Regions from separate parts of the Homo sapiens genome. Here region 2 is linked to region 1. The links come from fine-mapping of genetic effects on gene expression. Tissue or cell type: whole blood. Region 1 holds a variant in brackets; the other region holds the start of a gene. All regions are shown on one strand. Distances are between the middles of the regions.

What was found. PIP is the estimated chance that this variant, and not a neighbour inherited with it, causes the effect.
Region 2: it holds the start of KLRD1, and the variant in region 1 is fine-mapped to the expression of KLRD1 in whole blood (TOPMed, PIP above 0.99).

Annotation. Positions count from the first base shown.
Region 1 is chr12:10,249,608-10,257,794 of GRCh38, forward strand. It overlaps a transcript of KLRD1 not described here. Among named protein-coding and RNA genes, the nearest start is that of GABARAPL1-AS1, 39 kb to the left of the region's middle. The variant CT/C (reference allele first, on the strand shown) is at 3,804.
Region 2 is chr12:10,304,110-10,312,296 of GRCh38, forward strand. It overlaps KLRD1 (killer cell lectin like receptor D1), which reads left to right and starts at 3,761. Exons shown (of 6, transcript NM_002262.5): 1 at 3,761-3,975; 2 at 5,279-5,371; 3 at 5,517-5,579; 4 at 7,355-7,506. The coding sequence starts at 3,969.

The DNA.
Region 1 (8,187 bases):
ACCAGTGGAGAAACTCTTGGGGAAATCGTCAATTTTTTAAAAAAGAATTTATTGAGAAGCATCCTTGAAACAACTTGAAAAAAGAGTAAGAAATTATTTCATACTTAATTTTCTACAAAGAACAAAATAATGAATCTCACATTTATCACACATATGCAGTGAGAAGGACTCCTGGAGGCTGTAGCAGTCAGTGCCTTTCACACAGGAAGGGACCCTTACTCTGAGCTCTGCTAAGCAGAAGGGTGGTAGTGTCCCATGGTGGCTCGTAATGCATTTCTTGACCCAATGACTTCCTTTGTGGTTTCATCAGAGTTCGCAGGAGCTGCCATCACTCTAGCTTTATGGTTTTCAACTCTAACAAAGTGAGGAGTATAGTAGTCCTTTTGTTTTCTCGAAGACCATTAGGATCACTTGTTGTACATACGTTGTCCGTCATGCTCAGATTTCCTAGGAATTCAACTTCTGTCCTGAGTCTCTGCCTTTATTTCTATCCTGGTGCGTTAGGCTGTCAACCTAGAAGGAAACATTTACATCCCCTCAACCACTCTCTCTCTTAAGTCCTTACCATTTCCCAAGGTGGTGATAACGTTTTGCTTTTTTTTTTTTTTTTTTTTTTTTTTAGGGGGGCTGTTATGAGTGCTGGAAACCAAGAAAGGATGAGCAAAGAAAAAAGTTCCCCTGAGTCATTTGGCCCCAAACATTTTAGCATACCCAAAGGCGCCAGAGCCCTTTCAGTAACATGTATTATTCCTGTTAAAGATCCTTCCCCTTGGTTTGGGTTCTGTAGCTAGACAAAGAGAAGGTTAAGAACATCTGCTTCTGTGTCACATTGTTCCAAACTTTTCTTTTCTTTTCTTTTCTTTTTTTGAGACGGGGTCTCACTCTGTTGCCCAGGCTGGAGTGCAGTGGCAAAATCTCCCGCTCACTGCAACCTCTGCCTCCTGGGTTCAACTGATTCTCCTACCTCAGCCTCCAGAGCAGCTGGGACTACAGGCTCCCGCCACCATGCCAGGCTAATTTTTGTATTTGTCCCAAAGTTTTCTGCTTGACCTAGATAAAACTTGGGTATTAATTTATCAGTTACCTTTTAAACACATTTTAAAATTTACATTTGCAACACCCCTTTGATTATTAACTTCCATTATATGTTGAGGCAAGTCAGTACGAAGTGGTTTCAAAGTCACATAATACTTTAAAAATGGATAGCGTATTAAGGTAATATAAAGGGTCTTGGGTCTGTGAAGCTAGAGAAGATCCAGACCAGGAGAAAGTCTCAGGTATTTAAGAGCATGTTTTCTGGTTAAGGAAAGGATAATTGAAAGCAGCCGCAAGTGCCATGTTTCGTTCATTTACCATCATTATCAACGACTTATTTAATGTAGTCATAATTTTGTAATCGGGATTTCTGAAGTTCCATAAACTGGAGCTAACATATGTTGCCTCACTAGCATTAACTACAGATGTTAACATACTAACCTTTCACTCTGGAGTTTGGGACAGTGAGTGATTATTTGTTATTATACTATTTTCTTTTTGAGATGGGGTCTCACTCTGTTGCCCAGGCTGGAGTGCAGTGGTGCGATCCTGGCTTACTGCAACCTCCGCCTCCCAGGTTCAAGCAATTCTCCTGCCTTGGCCTCCCGAGTAGCTGCGATTACAGGCAAGCACCACCAAGCCGGGCTAGTTTTTGTATTTTTAGTAGAGATAGGGCTTCACCATGTTGTCCAGGCTGGTCTCAAACTCCTGACCTCAGGTAATCCTCCGGTCTTAGCCTCCTAAAGTGCTGGGATTACAGGTATGAGCCACCATGCCCAGCCCTTTTATGCTATTTCTTTGGCAAACACAAAAAGGAATGGTCTGGTCCAGTGGTCCCCAAACTTTTTGGCCCCAGGGACCGGTTTCATGAAAGATAATTTTTCTATGGATGGGAGCAAGAGGGGGATGGTTTGGGATGGTTCAAGTGCGTTACATTTATTGTGCACTTTATTTCTATTATTATTACATTGTAATATATAATGAAATAATTCTACAACTCACCGTAATGTAGAATCAGTGGGAGCCCTGAGCTTATTTTTGTGCAACTAGATAGTCCCATCTGGGGGTGACGGGAGACAGTGACAGATCATCAGGTATTGGATTCTCATAAGAAGCACACAACCTAGATCCCTCGCATGTGCAGTTCACAACAGGGTTTGTGCTCCTATGAGAATCAAATGCCTCTGCGGACCTGACAGGAAGCAGAGCTCTGGTGGTAATGCCAGCAATGGGGAGTGGTTGTAAATATAGGTGAAGCTTTGCTCACTCATTCCCTGTTCACCTCCTGCTGTGCTCCAGGTTCCTAACAGGCCACAGTACCGGTCTGTGGCCTGGGGCTTGGGGACCTCTGGTCTGGTCAATTACACATTTCTCCTGAATTCTGGAGAGACAACATACCAGTTCCTCAGAGGAAACAAAGATTTTCTTAAAAATCACATCAAATTAAATTACTGCTTTTTGCTTATTGAAGTGGATAATCTTACTCTTGTTTTTGTCATTGAAAAGACACTAGGCCAGGTATGGTGGTTTACACCTATAATCCCAGCACTTTGGGAGGCTGATGTAGGTGAATCCCTTGAACTCAGGATTTTGAGACCAGCTTCAGCAACATATTTATGTTCTATAAATGTATGTTCTATAAATAATACAAAAATTAGCTGTGTGTGGTGATGTGCAGGTGTATTACGTATTTTCTATAAATAATACAAAACTTAGCTGGGCGTGGCGATGTGCACCTGTAGTCCCAGCTGCTTGGGAAGCTGAGGTGGAAGAATCACTCAAGCCTTGGAGGTTGAGGCTGCAGTGAGCTGTGATTGCGCTACTGTACTCCAGCCTGAGCAACAAAATGAGAACTTGTCTCCAAAAAACAAACAAACAAACAAACCCCACCACATTCTCAAGTTATAAGAAGTTAGTTCTTCTTCCCTCATGTTACTTAAGATTTGAATTCATGATTGTATAGAATCATTAGTTGTCTTAAACAAGCAAGGGCACTAAATGAATGACCATTACAGGGAAGACAGTAGATTCCATGAGAGGATGTGTCTTGAGAATGTATATGAACATGAAGACTTCATCTTTGAGAAAGAGGAATAACTTTCAGAGGAAGGTGATTCAAGTGAACCAAGACATGACACTGAAGAAGAATGGTGGGGGTGGTAGGGAGTAAAACTATCGCAGCTGTGTGTACACAAAAGGGAATGAACCAGGGTTGGGAGTGCAGTGGTGTGAGTTGTGACTTGGGCCTAGAATGCTTGATTGAACATAGCATTACTGGCTTTGCTGTCCTGAGTGAGTCAGTGGGCAGTTGTAAAAAAAAAAAAAAAAAAGATGAATAATTTAACTTTTAATAAACAAAGTTTGACAATCCTCTGCATAAAACATTTCTTATCTAATGCTTTTAATATTTTTTTATCACTAGTTTTGAAGAACTTAATTATAATGTACATGTAAGTAGATTTTCTTATGTTTCTTTTGCTTGGGGTTCGTGGACTTTCTAGATCTATATGCTTATAGTTCTAGCAATTTGGAAACATTTCAATTTCAGTATTTAAATCTCAGTTTTCAACTGTAAGTTCTTTGAATACTTTTTGCCCCCTCCTATGTATCCAGAGACTGCTTTTAGGCGTACGTTGGGCCCCTTGCAGCTGTCCCGCAGGTCACTGATACTCCGTTCATACACTTTTTAAATGCTCTTTAATGTGTTTCATTTTGTTTAGTTTTCATTGCAATGTCTTCGGATTCGGGCATCTTTTCTTTCACAGTGT[CT/C]TTTTTTTCTAACTTTTATTTTAGGTTTGGGGCTACCTGTGAAGGTTTGTTACATGGGTAAACATGTGTCATGGGGGTTTGTTGTACAGATTATTTCATCACTCAGGCATTATACCCAGTACCCAATAGATACCTTTTCTGCTCCTCTCCCTTCTCTCACCCTATCCCCTTGAGTAGACCATGGTGTCTGTGATTTCCTTTTCTGTGTTCATAAGTTCTTATCATTTAGCTCCCACTTATAAATGAGATCATGAGGTGTTTAGTTTTGTTTCTTCATTAGTTTGCTAAGGATAGTAGCCCCCAGCTCCATCCATGTTCCTGTAAAAGGCAGGATTTCATTCTTTTTTCATGGCTGCACAGTATTCCATGGTGTATATGTACCACATTTTCTTTATTCAATCTGTGATTGATGGGCACTTAGGTTGAATTCAAGTCTTTGCTATTGCGACAAGTGCTGCAGTTATCATTCACATGCATGTGTCTTCGTGGTAGAAGGATTTATATTCTTCTGGGTATATACCCAGTAATGGGATTGTTGAATTGAATGGTAGTTCTGTCTAAAACTATAAAAACGCTGGAAAACAACCTAGGCAATACCATCTTGGACACAGACAGGAATGGGCAAAGATTTCGTGACAAAGACACCAAAAGCAATCGCAACAAAAGCAAAAATTGACAAGTGGGATCTAATGAAACTTAAGAGCTTCTGGACAGCAAAAGAAACTATCCACAGAGGGCAGGGCATGGTGGCTCACGCCTGTAATCCCAGCACTTTGGGAGGCCGAGACGGGTGGATCACGAGGTCAGGAGCTCGAGACCATTCTGGGTAACGTGGTGAAACCCCGTCTCTACTAAAAATACAAAAAATTAGCAGGGCGCGGTGGAGGGCGCCTGTAGTCCCAGCTACTCTGGAGGCTGAGGCAGGTGAATGGCGTGAACCCGGGAGGCGGAGCTTGCTTGCAGTGAGCCGAGATCGCGCCACTGCACTCCAGGCTGGGCGACAGAGCCACACTCCGTCTCAAAAAAAAAAAAAAAAAAAAACCTATCAACAGAGTAAACAGACAATGTACAGACTGGGAGAAAATATTTGCAAACTATGCACCTGACAAAGGACTAATGTATATCCAGCATCTCGAAGGAACTTAAACAAATCTACCAGAGAAAAACAAACAACCCCATTAAAAAGTAGGCAAAAGGCTGGGCGTGGTGGCTCACACCTGTAATCCCAGCACTTTGAGAGACTGAGGCTGGTGGATCACCTGAGGTTAGGAGTTTGAGACCAGCCTGGTCAACATGGTGAAACCCTGTCTCATGTAAAAATACAAGGAAAAATTAGCCAAGCGTGGTGGCGCCTGCCTGTAATCCCAGCTACTCTGGAGGCTGAGGCAGGAGAATCACTTGAACCCAGGAGGCGGAGATTGCAGTGAGCTGAGATTGCGCTACCGCACTCCAGCCTAGGCAACAGAGCGAGATCAGTCTCAAAAATAAATAAATTAAAAAAAAAAAAGAAAAGTAGGCAAAGGACATGAACAGGCACTTCTCAAAAGAAGACATACTTGTGGCCTACAAGCACATGAAAAAAGCTCAACATCGCTGATCATTAGAAAAATGCAAATCAAAACCACAATGAGACACTGTCTCACATCAGTCAGAATGCCTATTATTAAAAAGTCAAAAAATAATAGATGCTGGTGAGGATGCAGAGAAAAGGGAATATTTATATACTGTTAGTGGGGGTGTAAATTAGTTCAACCCTTGTGGAAAGCAGTACGGAGATTCCTCAAAGAGCTAAACTGCAGTGTCTTATATCTACTAGTAATTTGAGGACTTTTAAAAATTATTCATTGTAGCTAAAGGTTTACTAATATTGTTAATCTTTTCTAAGGTCCAACTTTTGGCTTTGTTTATTTTCTCTATTTTCCACTCTATTTTATGTACATACCTTCTAGTATTTATTGTTCATTTGGCTGGCGTTGGGTTTAATTTATTTTCCTTTTTCTAGTTACTTAAGGGATGAAGTTAGGTTGTTGGTTTAAGATGTTCTTTCCAATGTATTTAAAGATATAAATTTGCCTCTAAGCACTACTTTTGTTGCATCCCGTATGTTTTGGTATGTTGTGTTTTTATTTTCATTAGCTTTAAGATATTTTCTAATTTCCCTTGTATTTTTTCTTTGACTCATTGGTTATTTAAAAGTGTTGTTTACATTCTAACTAATTTTCAAATTTTTAGTTTTACTTCTGTTACTGAATTCTAGTTTCATTCCATTGTGATAGGAAATAATGCTTTCTATGAGTTTACTCTTTTAAAATTAATTAAGACCAGTTTTGTGGTCTAACATATAGTCTGTCCTGAAGAATTCTCCATGTGCACTTCAAAAAAATGTATATTCTGCTGCTGTTGGTTGGAATATTCCATATGTCTTTTAGGTCCAGTTGGTCCATAGTGTTGCTCAAGTCCTCTACTTTCTTATTGTTCTGGTTGTTTTTTGCATTATTGGACATAGGCATTACATTCTCCAAGTATTATTGGAGAGCTATCTATTTGTCTCTTCAGTTATGTCAAAGTTTGTTTCATATATTTAAAGGTTCTGATATTTAGTGCCTATATGTTTATAATTGTGATTTATTCTTGAGGAATTGACACTTTTATTAATATATGATATTCTTTGTCTTTTATATATATACATTTACTTTATCTGACATTAGTATGGCCATCCCAATTTCTTTTGGTTACTCTTTGCTTGGAATATCTTTTCCATTCTTTCATTTTCAACTTATATGTGTTTTCAGGTCTGAAGTGAGTCTTTTATAGACACCTTCTTATTAGATCCTGTTTTTGCTATCAATTCTGCCCATCCATGCCTTTTAATTGGGAATTTTAATTCATTTATATTTAATGCAATTACTGATGGGGAAGGACTTATATTTTCCATTTTCCTATTTATTTCAGGGTGTCTTATAGTTATTTTCCCACTCATTTTTTCCATTATTGACTTTCTTTGTGATTAGCTGTTTTTTTTTTTTTTTTTGTAGAGACACATTTTCATTATCTTCTCCTTTCCTTTTGTGTATATTCTATAATTTGTGTTAACTTAAAGATTATTTATAATATTTAAAATTTTTAACAACCTATTTTTAATCAATACTAACAACTTCAGTGGCAAACTAAAACTCTACTCCTACACAGCTCCACCCCTCTGCTTTATGATATCAATATCATAAATTACATCTGTATTTATTTTGTAACTATTAACATAGATTTATTATTAATTTATTCAATTGCTTCTAAATGTTATAAAAAATAAAAAGTGAAATTACACACCAAAATCTTAATGATGTTGGGCATTATATTTCGCTGATGCATTTATCTTTACCAGAGATCTTTATATCTTCATATGATGATGATGAATTATTGTCTTGCATCCTTCCATTTTACTCTATAGAACTCTCTCTAGCTTTTCTCTTAGGGCAGGTTTAGTGCAATAAACTGCCTCAGATTTTTTTTATCTTGAAATGCTTTAATTTCACCCTCATTTTTTAAGGATGGTTTTGCCAGATATTAAAATTTTGATTGACAGTTTTTTTTAATTCATAACTTTAGATATACCACCTCTCTGCCTTGTGGCCTCCAAAGCTTCTGCTGGACACTCCACTGGTAATTTTATCAAGGAGCCCTTGTTTGTGACAAATATTTTCTTGTTTTGTTTTGTTTTTTCTTTTCTTTTCTTTTTTTTTTTTTTTTTTTAAGATTTGCTGCTTGGCTTTGGCTTTTGCCAGTTTGATTATATCTTATTGTGGGTCTCTTTTCATTTATGCTACTTGGACTTCATTAAGCTTTTTGGATTTGTAAGATTCATGATTTTTTTTTAAAATCAAATTTGGCAAATTTCTTTATTTTTTAAATACTCTTTCTTTTCCTATTCTATGACACTTATAATGGGTATATTGGTCTGTTAAATAACGTCCATTAAATCTCTTAGTCTCTGTTCACTTTTCTCTGTTCTTTTAAAAAATTTCTTGTCTTCTGACTCAGTAATTTCAAATGGTTTACTTTCCAGGTAGCTGATTCTTTTTTTTTTTTTTTTTTTTTGTAGTAACAGTATATTTTTCAGTTCTGTTATTTAATTTTTCGTCTCTAGAATTTGTTTGATTTTTATATTAATATTTTCTATTTGTTGATATTCTCATTTTGTTCTATGTATCACCCACTTTTCTTTAGTTATTTTTCTGTTTTTTTCTTTAACTTTTTGAGCATATTTAGTACAGTTATTTTGAAGTCTTAGTCTACTGATCTGATATTTGTGCTCCCTCATGAACAGTCTCTAAAGATTCATTTTGTTTCTTCCAATGGGTTGTGTTTTCCTGTTTCTTCGTATGCTTT
Region 2 (8,187 bases), 55 kb after region 1:
AGTATCATGCTTTACTCATAATTTCAGTTATACAATAATTGTGAGATGCAGACAAAACAGTGGAAAACCCAGGCCTGCAAAAGCACCCACTCATTCTTACTTTCCCCTTAGGACACACTCTGGCCCAGACAAACAGATAAACATATGAGGTCTCTTAATGGTGTTTGTGGCTGCACCGTTTACACAAAAGGAGATGTTTTGGTTATGACACATCTCCATTTTATACTCAGATGGTTACATGGTTATGGTTACACATAGCTTATGTGACATTTTTCCAGGAAGCCAGCCTCCATAAACCCACAGATTCTAGTTTTATGCTTTTTTTTTATATAGTGTGTTTTGCTCTTGTCACCCAGGCTGGAGTGCAATGGTGCGATCTCAGCTCATCAAGTTCAAGAGACTCTAATGCCTCAGCCTCCCAAGTAGCAGGGGTTACAGGTGAGTGCCACCATGCCCGACTAATTTTGTATTTTTAGTAGAGACAGGGTTTCTCCATGTTGGCCAGGCTGGCCTTGAACTCCTGACCTCAGGTGATCCACCTGCCTTGGCCTCCAAAAGAGCTGAGATTACAGGCGTGAGCCACTATGCCCAGCCTTAGTTTTATTTTTTTATTTGATTTTACCACTAACAATTTTAGACAATCTAATACATCCTGCTAAAATCATTCCATTGATAAGGATTTTGCAAGCAAAACACACTATATATAAGAAACCACTATAGCTAGTAGGTTTGTTATTAGCATGTTTACAATGAGATTTTACCAGGTCAGTAACGTCTTTTGTTTTTTCTCAGGGAGCCCTCTCTCTCTGTTAAAAGAATAATTTGCAGCCTGATGTGAGCAATTTTCTTTCCGCTCAAAGAATGCATTTTCTAAAAGCAGTGAGATCAAAATAAATTTTTCCCTTGGGGATACTAGAACGTATACTGTTATTTTGTTCTGCAACATTTTAGTTATACATTTTTAGGTAGGGAAAAGACTTCACTGTTTATATGTTAAGTGAACATTAGTTTCTTTTCCCTGGCTTTTGACTAAGGTTTAAAAGTTGACTTAGCTATTGAAGTCATCACTTGCTCTTACCAAGGGCACTAGTAAATTGCAGGGGAGGAAGAGGGCATCTTCCTGCAATGGATACTAGGGGATGGAAAGTCCTGCAAAGAGAGACGTTCTTTTGGCAGGATACCTAACTTTTCAAAAGCAAATTTATGTAAGTGAAGCTGGATATTTCAGCGGAATTTAGTCTGGTTTCTCTCGGCAGCACACTCAGAGAATACTTTGAGTAGAAACTTTATTTGGAATTGTGTATGCAATAAATGTAGGAAAGGAAATGTAATAGGAAAGGGAAAGTGGAACGCAATAAAGGTTATTTTCTTAATCTAGCTTCTAGAGGAGGTGACTGGAACATAACACTATTGAGTAATTCTGGGAACTGGGCAAAACACAATGTTCAGAATTACCTGACTTTAGGGCTGAGACTGCTGGACTGTATAGCAAATCACAAGATTCGTTTGTTGACGCCCATTCTGGTGATGATTATTCAGCACTTCCGGATTAGCATGTCTGAGAACAGCAAGGCTTTCAGCAGTTATTGGAGAAAAAAAGAACCCATAGATACAGCTATACAGATAACTAGTTGGCCATAGTTCCCCAAATATTCCAAGGGACATAGGCGAGGCAATGATAACTTCAGGAACAAGTGGAGATGAGTGGGAGAGATACAGTACATGGAAATCATTCACCTGTCTACGTACAAAAATAAATAGAAAGAACAGAGGCCGGGCACGGTGGCTCACGCCTGTAATCCCAGCACTTTGGGAGGCCGAGGCGGGCGGATCACGAGGTCAGGAGATCGAGACAATCCTGGCTAACACGGTGAAACCCCGTCTCTACTAAAAAAAAAAAATACAAAAAATTAGCTGGGCGTGGTGGCGGGAGCCTGTAGCCCCAGCTACTCGGTAGGCCGAGGCAGGAGAATGGCGTGAACACGGGAGGCGGAGCTTGCAGTGAGCCGAGTGAGCCACTGCACTCCAGCCTGGGTGACAGAGACTCCATCTCAAAAAACAAACAAACAAAAACAAACAAAAAAAGAACAATCAGAGTTGGCAGCTCAGAAAGAGTTAAAGAGGTATATACATATATGTTTACTGTGTGTGTGTATGTGTGTGTGTGTGTGTGTGTTTAGGTATCTTAAATATTTAAGCCTGGAGTTCTTGAAGTAAACTTGTATTTGTTGGATTTTTATTTCTAAGTCAGTGAACTAAGATGAAAAAAAGGACAATGACTGATGGACGTATTCTCACCAAACAGGGTTCTAAAAACTTAGAACCTCTAACTTCCAAATAAAGGTGGTTGTGTTAGTAATGAAAGTGTAGTAATAATCCCTATTGCACATTCTGTCATAAATTTGTACTCTCTCAAGAGAAAAACTAAAAGCAAACCCCTAATCTCCTATATTTTGAGGCAATTTTACATGGGGGAAAAATAGTATCAGACAGGTTTCTTCCAGACCAGCTTTTTCTAACACTAAAAATGAATAGATTTCAAGTAAGCAAAGGATTTTTAAATAAATCACTTCAACTAAGATTTGCATACAGTCTGGATGAAGTAGATTTTACGCTTATATTCTTCAGTGAGGATTTATAGCTCAACAAATTTGTTGGTGCAATGAAAGCAGCTCTAGGCACACAATGCAAACTGAAAAGATGGAAAGTTTTGACTTCATAAAAACTGAGAAGTCAAAGTAGTCTTTTCTTTCATTTTTTTCTGTTGTTGGTTGAAAGCCCATCTTTTACAAAAGGGTTTATCTATAGTAATATTATAATGCTTGAACATAAACAATATACAAAATATAATACACAAAACGTTTATTTGAGTGTCTGCTTTTGTATGGGGGTGCATGGTAGATTGTATTTCCAGATACTAAATCATGGATCGAAATCTCTCCTTTCAAGATTCTTATTATAGCCAATCTCTTCCACATTGGAAATTTGACCTGTTCCACATTTGATATTCCTATTAACAAGGTTACTCTTCTGTAGATGAAAAAGTGTATATCGAAGTATCAGTATAGTATCTGAATTAGATAACACACTAAACAATATAATAATGTATTAGTAAAAATAAGGAAAATAAAGAAGCTGAAGTCGTGCTTAAAGAACTTTAAGAAAATGAAAATTGAGGTGTTGAAAAAAGCTTTTAAGGCTAACGTGAATGAGGCGTCCAAGTGGGAAACCCATCCAGTTCTACTTTTTTGAACTTTGCCTGTCGTGGCCAGGATAATTAGGTAGAGATCAGAAGAACAGAGTGAGACATGGAAATCCCAATTTATGTGACCTTGGGCAAATTACTTAGCTCTGTATGCCTCAGTTTTCTCTTTGATAGATTGAAGATATTTATATATCTTTACTATCAAGCCATTTACAGAAATAAATGAGCTAAGATATGCCAAGTGCTTTAAATTGTGTTAAGTACAAGGTAAATAATAAATGTTTATTATTAAAAGAGGAAAATTCTGTAAGTAATTTTGTTATGCTAAGTAAATTTACCTTTGGTTTGCCCATCATTTCCTTCATTTTCCAGATAACCCTTTAAAATGAATTTGATTTTCAAACAATAAAAAACAAAACAGCAACAAAACTCCCTCTGACCTCCTCTCACCTTCTTTAGTCCTTGCCAAAGTGTTAATATTGCAAAAGTACTGTGAGAATTTCCTGTATTGTGGTTCCTGGAACACTTCAGAGGCTTGTGATTCTACTGCTTCTTATTCACACTATAATACATGTCTCACCAATAGATGATTCAAGAACATCATTTAAATACACAATTTTTCATTCTCTATTTTTGCTAAATTTCTTCATACTCAACTTTCAGATTCTTTAATCTCCAGCTCAGCTTCAACAATTCAACGCTGTTCTTTCTGAAAAAGTACACATCGTGCCTTCTCTACTTCGCTCTTGGAACATAATTTCTCATGGCAGGTATGTGTGATTTCAGTCACTAAATTAAAAATAACCAGAAAAGCTATTTCTTGGATTGGCTGATTTTGGGGTAATGCTTTAAGAGAAAAGGACATGATTAACAGTGGATGTTTTTAGGATTTTCATGCATTAGCACTTTCCACATTCATTATATTTTCCTGATTCTTCATTGTATAACTTAGACATGATTTCATGAAGTTTTTTCCACAGGTTTGAAGAGTGGTTTCTGACAGGGCTACCTTTAAATTCTGAGTGAGAACTGAACTTTAGCCTGGTTAAATTGTGAGCAACAGTGTTCTAGTATAGCAATAGAAAATGCCAAATATTAATGACACAATGCTGAAAAGGTTTTAATTGACTATTTATGTTGTGACATCCAAAAATTACACAAATGAACAGTTTGACACATTGTACTGTTGTTAATGACATCACTCTTTGAGAGTGTGTTCACGTTAGCACAGAATCTCCTAATGTTGAAATGTTTTAGGTGAAAGGCCTAAAAGCAAGTAATTTTGAGTATGAACAAATGGAATGTTCTAGGGGAAAAAGGATTGTTTATGTATGTTCAATATACTGTGAAATGAAGCCAGGCCTCAAAGTTGTTACCCATCAATTTGTTATCAGTTATCACACCAAGTCCAGAATGTTCCTATGTCTTCTTTTCCCTATAATATCTCTACGAACCAATGAGCAGCTAGACATTTATCAGAGCAAAACCTGCACTGAGATGAGGAGAGGGCATACTCTCAACTAGTATTATTGTGACAATGGTAGACTACGTTGAATGAAAGATTCTTGAGCTAGACACACTTTCATGTGATTTCTGACTTGGATACTTACTTGCTTTGATACCTTGAGAAAATAACATTATTATTGGACCTTATGTTTTCTCATCTATGTAATGAGAACCATACTATCTATCTTGTGATTTTGTTGAGAGAATAAAAATAAATGCCTGTTATGTAAGTCCATAAAACACAACGTGGTGCTTGTTAATATCTTCTACCTCCAGATCTTTAAGCACCTCTGCCAATTTAAAATAAATGGTAAATTCACTTTACTGCAACAGAGCTGGTAGAGAAGAAAATGTTTGAATAATCTTCCTGAAGAATAAGATACATCACATAAAAATGTTGGTATTGGGTGAAGTCCCGATTGGAAAGTCTTCAGTGTTTTATTGGCAAGATGACTCCGTTATCAAATGAAAGAATGTTGTGGATTCTCCGTCACTAGTTTCTGCTTTTAAGAACTCAGCTCCTGAGTTTGCTCTTTAAGTCATTACTCTGTCTGTCTTTCTCTACAGTGTTTAAGACCACTCTGTGGAGGTTAATTTCTGGGACCTTAGGGATAATATGCCTTTCGTTGATGTCTACGTTGGGAATTTTGTTGAAAAATTGTAAGTTTTTCTAAGCAAGTCTCCATAAAAATCAAAACTGTGAAGACATCATTTAATAATAAAGGCTTCATCTTGCTAATGTGTAATATTTTAGTATTTCATAAACCCATACCTAATTAAACAAATTTCTAATCATTTCTTATAGCTTTTACTAAACTGAGTATTGAGCCAGCATTTACTCCAGGACCCAACATAGAACTCCAGAAAGGTAGGTCACATTTTTTGGAAAACTTAGCATTGGTAAAAGATTAAATAGGCAGTTTCTTGTTTTTCACACAGAGAGGCATGATGGAATATTATACTTAGTAATAGAAATTTGCCTACCAGTGTAGGATAGTCTCATTTTACATTGCTCAATCTAATGTAAAAATGATTAAATTACACTGAATGTGTATCATTTGTACATTTAACTAATCAGGAAAATAGTAGCCTGAAACGAAAGATATGTTTCCTATATGAGTGCTCATAATTAAGTAACAAAAAATAAACCACAGGAAATGTTACAGTTAATCCTCATTACCTGCCTGAATTTGCTTATAACCTATACTTTTGCATCTCACTACTTTTCCTTTTCCAGAATATACTGCACAGATTTCTAAACCTTACTTATCCAGTGAAAGCCAGCTCAAAGTCCAATTTTCGTTTTTGGAGATGGAGTTTTGCTCTTGTCGTCCAGGCTGGAGTGCAGTGGCACGATCTTGGCTCACTGCCACATCAGCCTCCCTGGTTCAAGTGATTCTCCCACCTTCCTGCCTCAGCCTCCCAAGTAGCTGGGACTACAGGCGCCCGCCACCATGCCCAGCTAATTTTTGTGTTATTAGTAGAGTCAGGGTTTCGCCATGTTGGCCAGGCTGGTCTCGAACTCCTGACCTCAGGTCATCCACCTGCCTCGGCTTCCAAAGTGTTGGGATTATGCCGTACCCAGCAGAGCCACTGCGCCCGGCCTCAATTTTCTAAATATGTATTTTTCGGAATGCGCCCCAAGTTGTCTCACCATCATCTTGATTATATAGTGTTTATTTACAGTGCAACATCTTGGCCAGGCACAGTGGCTCACGTCTGTAATCCCAGCTCTTTGGGAGGCTGAGGTAGGCATATTACTTGAGGTCAGAAGTTCAAGACAGGCCAACCCCGTCTGTACTAAAAATACAAAAATTAGCCAGGCATGGCGGCACGCACCTGTAGTATCAGTTACTCAGGAGGCTGAGGCATGAGAATCACTTGAACCTGGGAGGCGGAGGTTGAAGGGAGCTGAGATGGTGCCACTGCACTCCAGCCTGGGCAACACAGCAAGACTCTGTCTCAAAAACAATTAAAAAATATAAAAATAATAGTGCAACATCTTCAGCACTACTTATATGGCAAAGATTTGAGTGCCTATGACGTGTCATGTTTTTATTACCGTGGGTAACAAACGTTGAAGACACTATTATTGATAAACTGTATAATTAAGCCTCAAGATAATTGGTTTATTTATATTCCCTTTTCAAAAATAAGATATCCAAACATATATCAAAATTCTCCAAATGTACCATATTCTTTTCTGACTCAGAAAGTATGCTAAAATGTTTTCCTCCTTTAAATCTTTTTCATCTAGTTAACTCCTATTTATGCTACAGTACTTAGTTTTGAGTCACTTCCTCAAAAAAAGGTTCTTGTAACTGCCCCTCATCTTACACTCTGCTACATGCTGTTTTAACATACTTAATTTTTTTGTACTTATCTAAATCATCACTAAATATCGTTAATAAATTATTGAAAATTATATAATTGTAATTCTATCTCTAGAATATAATCTCCATGAGGAAAAAGCATCATGTTCATGTCTAATTAGTTCACATTAGTAGCCCCTGAAGTGTGGTGTATACAGTAGATTCTGAATGTTAAAAGAATACACAGCAAATAATTTTTGAATAATTAAATAGCATTGAAAAAAATGTCTAGTCTCCAGTGTCATTAGTCATGCTTTATGTTTTCTGTCAGACTCTGACTGCTGTTCTTGCCAAGAAAAATGGGTTGGGTACCGGTGCAACTGTTACTTCATTTCCAGTGAACAGAAAACTTGGAACGAAAGTCGGCATCTCTGTGCTTCTCAGAAATCCAGCCTGCTTCAGCTTCAAAACACAGATGAACTGGCATGTGCTGAGTCTGATTTTCTACATTTTCTTTGATCTAGAAAAATATACTATCTAAACAAGTTAAATACTTTGGTTTAAGTCATTAATCACATAGTAAGTGGATGGTTATATTGGAATTGAGTTATCTGTTCTGTGTACCTTAAAGTAGTCATTGTAAAATCTTTATTAAATTCCTTAATGATTATATCATGGGAATACAAATCAAGATAGGTGCCAAATAAAGTGAAAGAAACTTTTCAGGAAGAATTCAAAGAAGATAATAGGTCATTATATTTACCCATTTTATTTGAAGAACCAACTAAATGACTGTGATTCTTAACTCTTTTAATTGAATTTATAATATCTTTTATAATTTTATAGTTTTTGTCATCTTTCTGGGATATAAGCTAGTATGGAAATATGGTAAGAAAACGTACCCAATTCTTTTCTTTTCTTTTTTTTTTTTTTTTTTTGAGACAGAGTTTTACTCTGTTGCCCAGGCTGGAGTGCACTGGTGCAATTTCAGCTCACTGCAGCCTCCACCTCCTGGGTTCAAGTGATTCTCCTGCCTCAGCCTCCTGAGTAGCTGGGATTACAGACACCTGCCACCAGGCCTGGCACTTTTTGTATTTTTAGTAGAGACAGGGTTTCACCGTATTGGCGAGGCTGGTCTTGAACTCCTGACCTCGGGTGATCTAC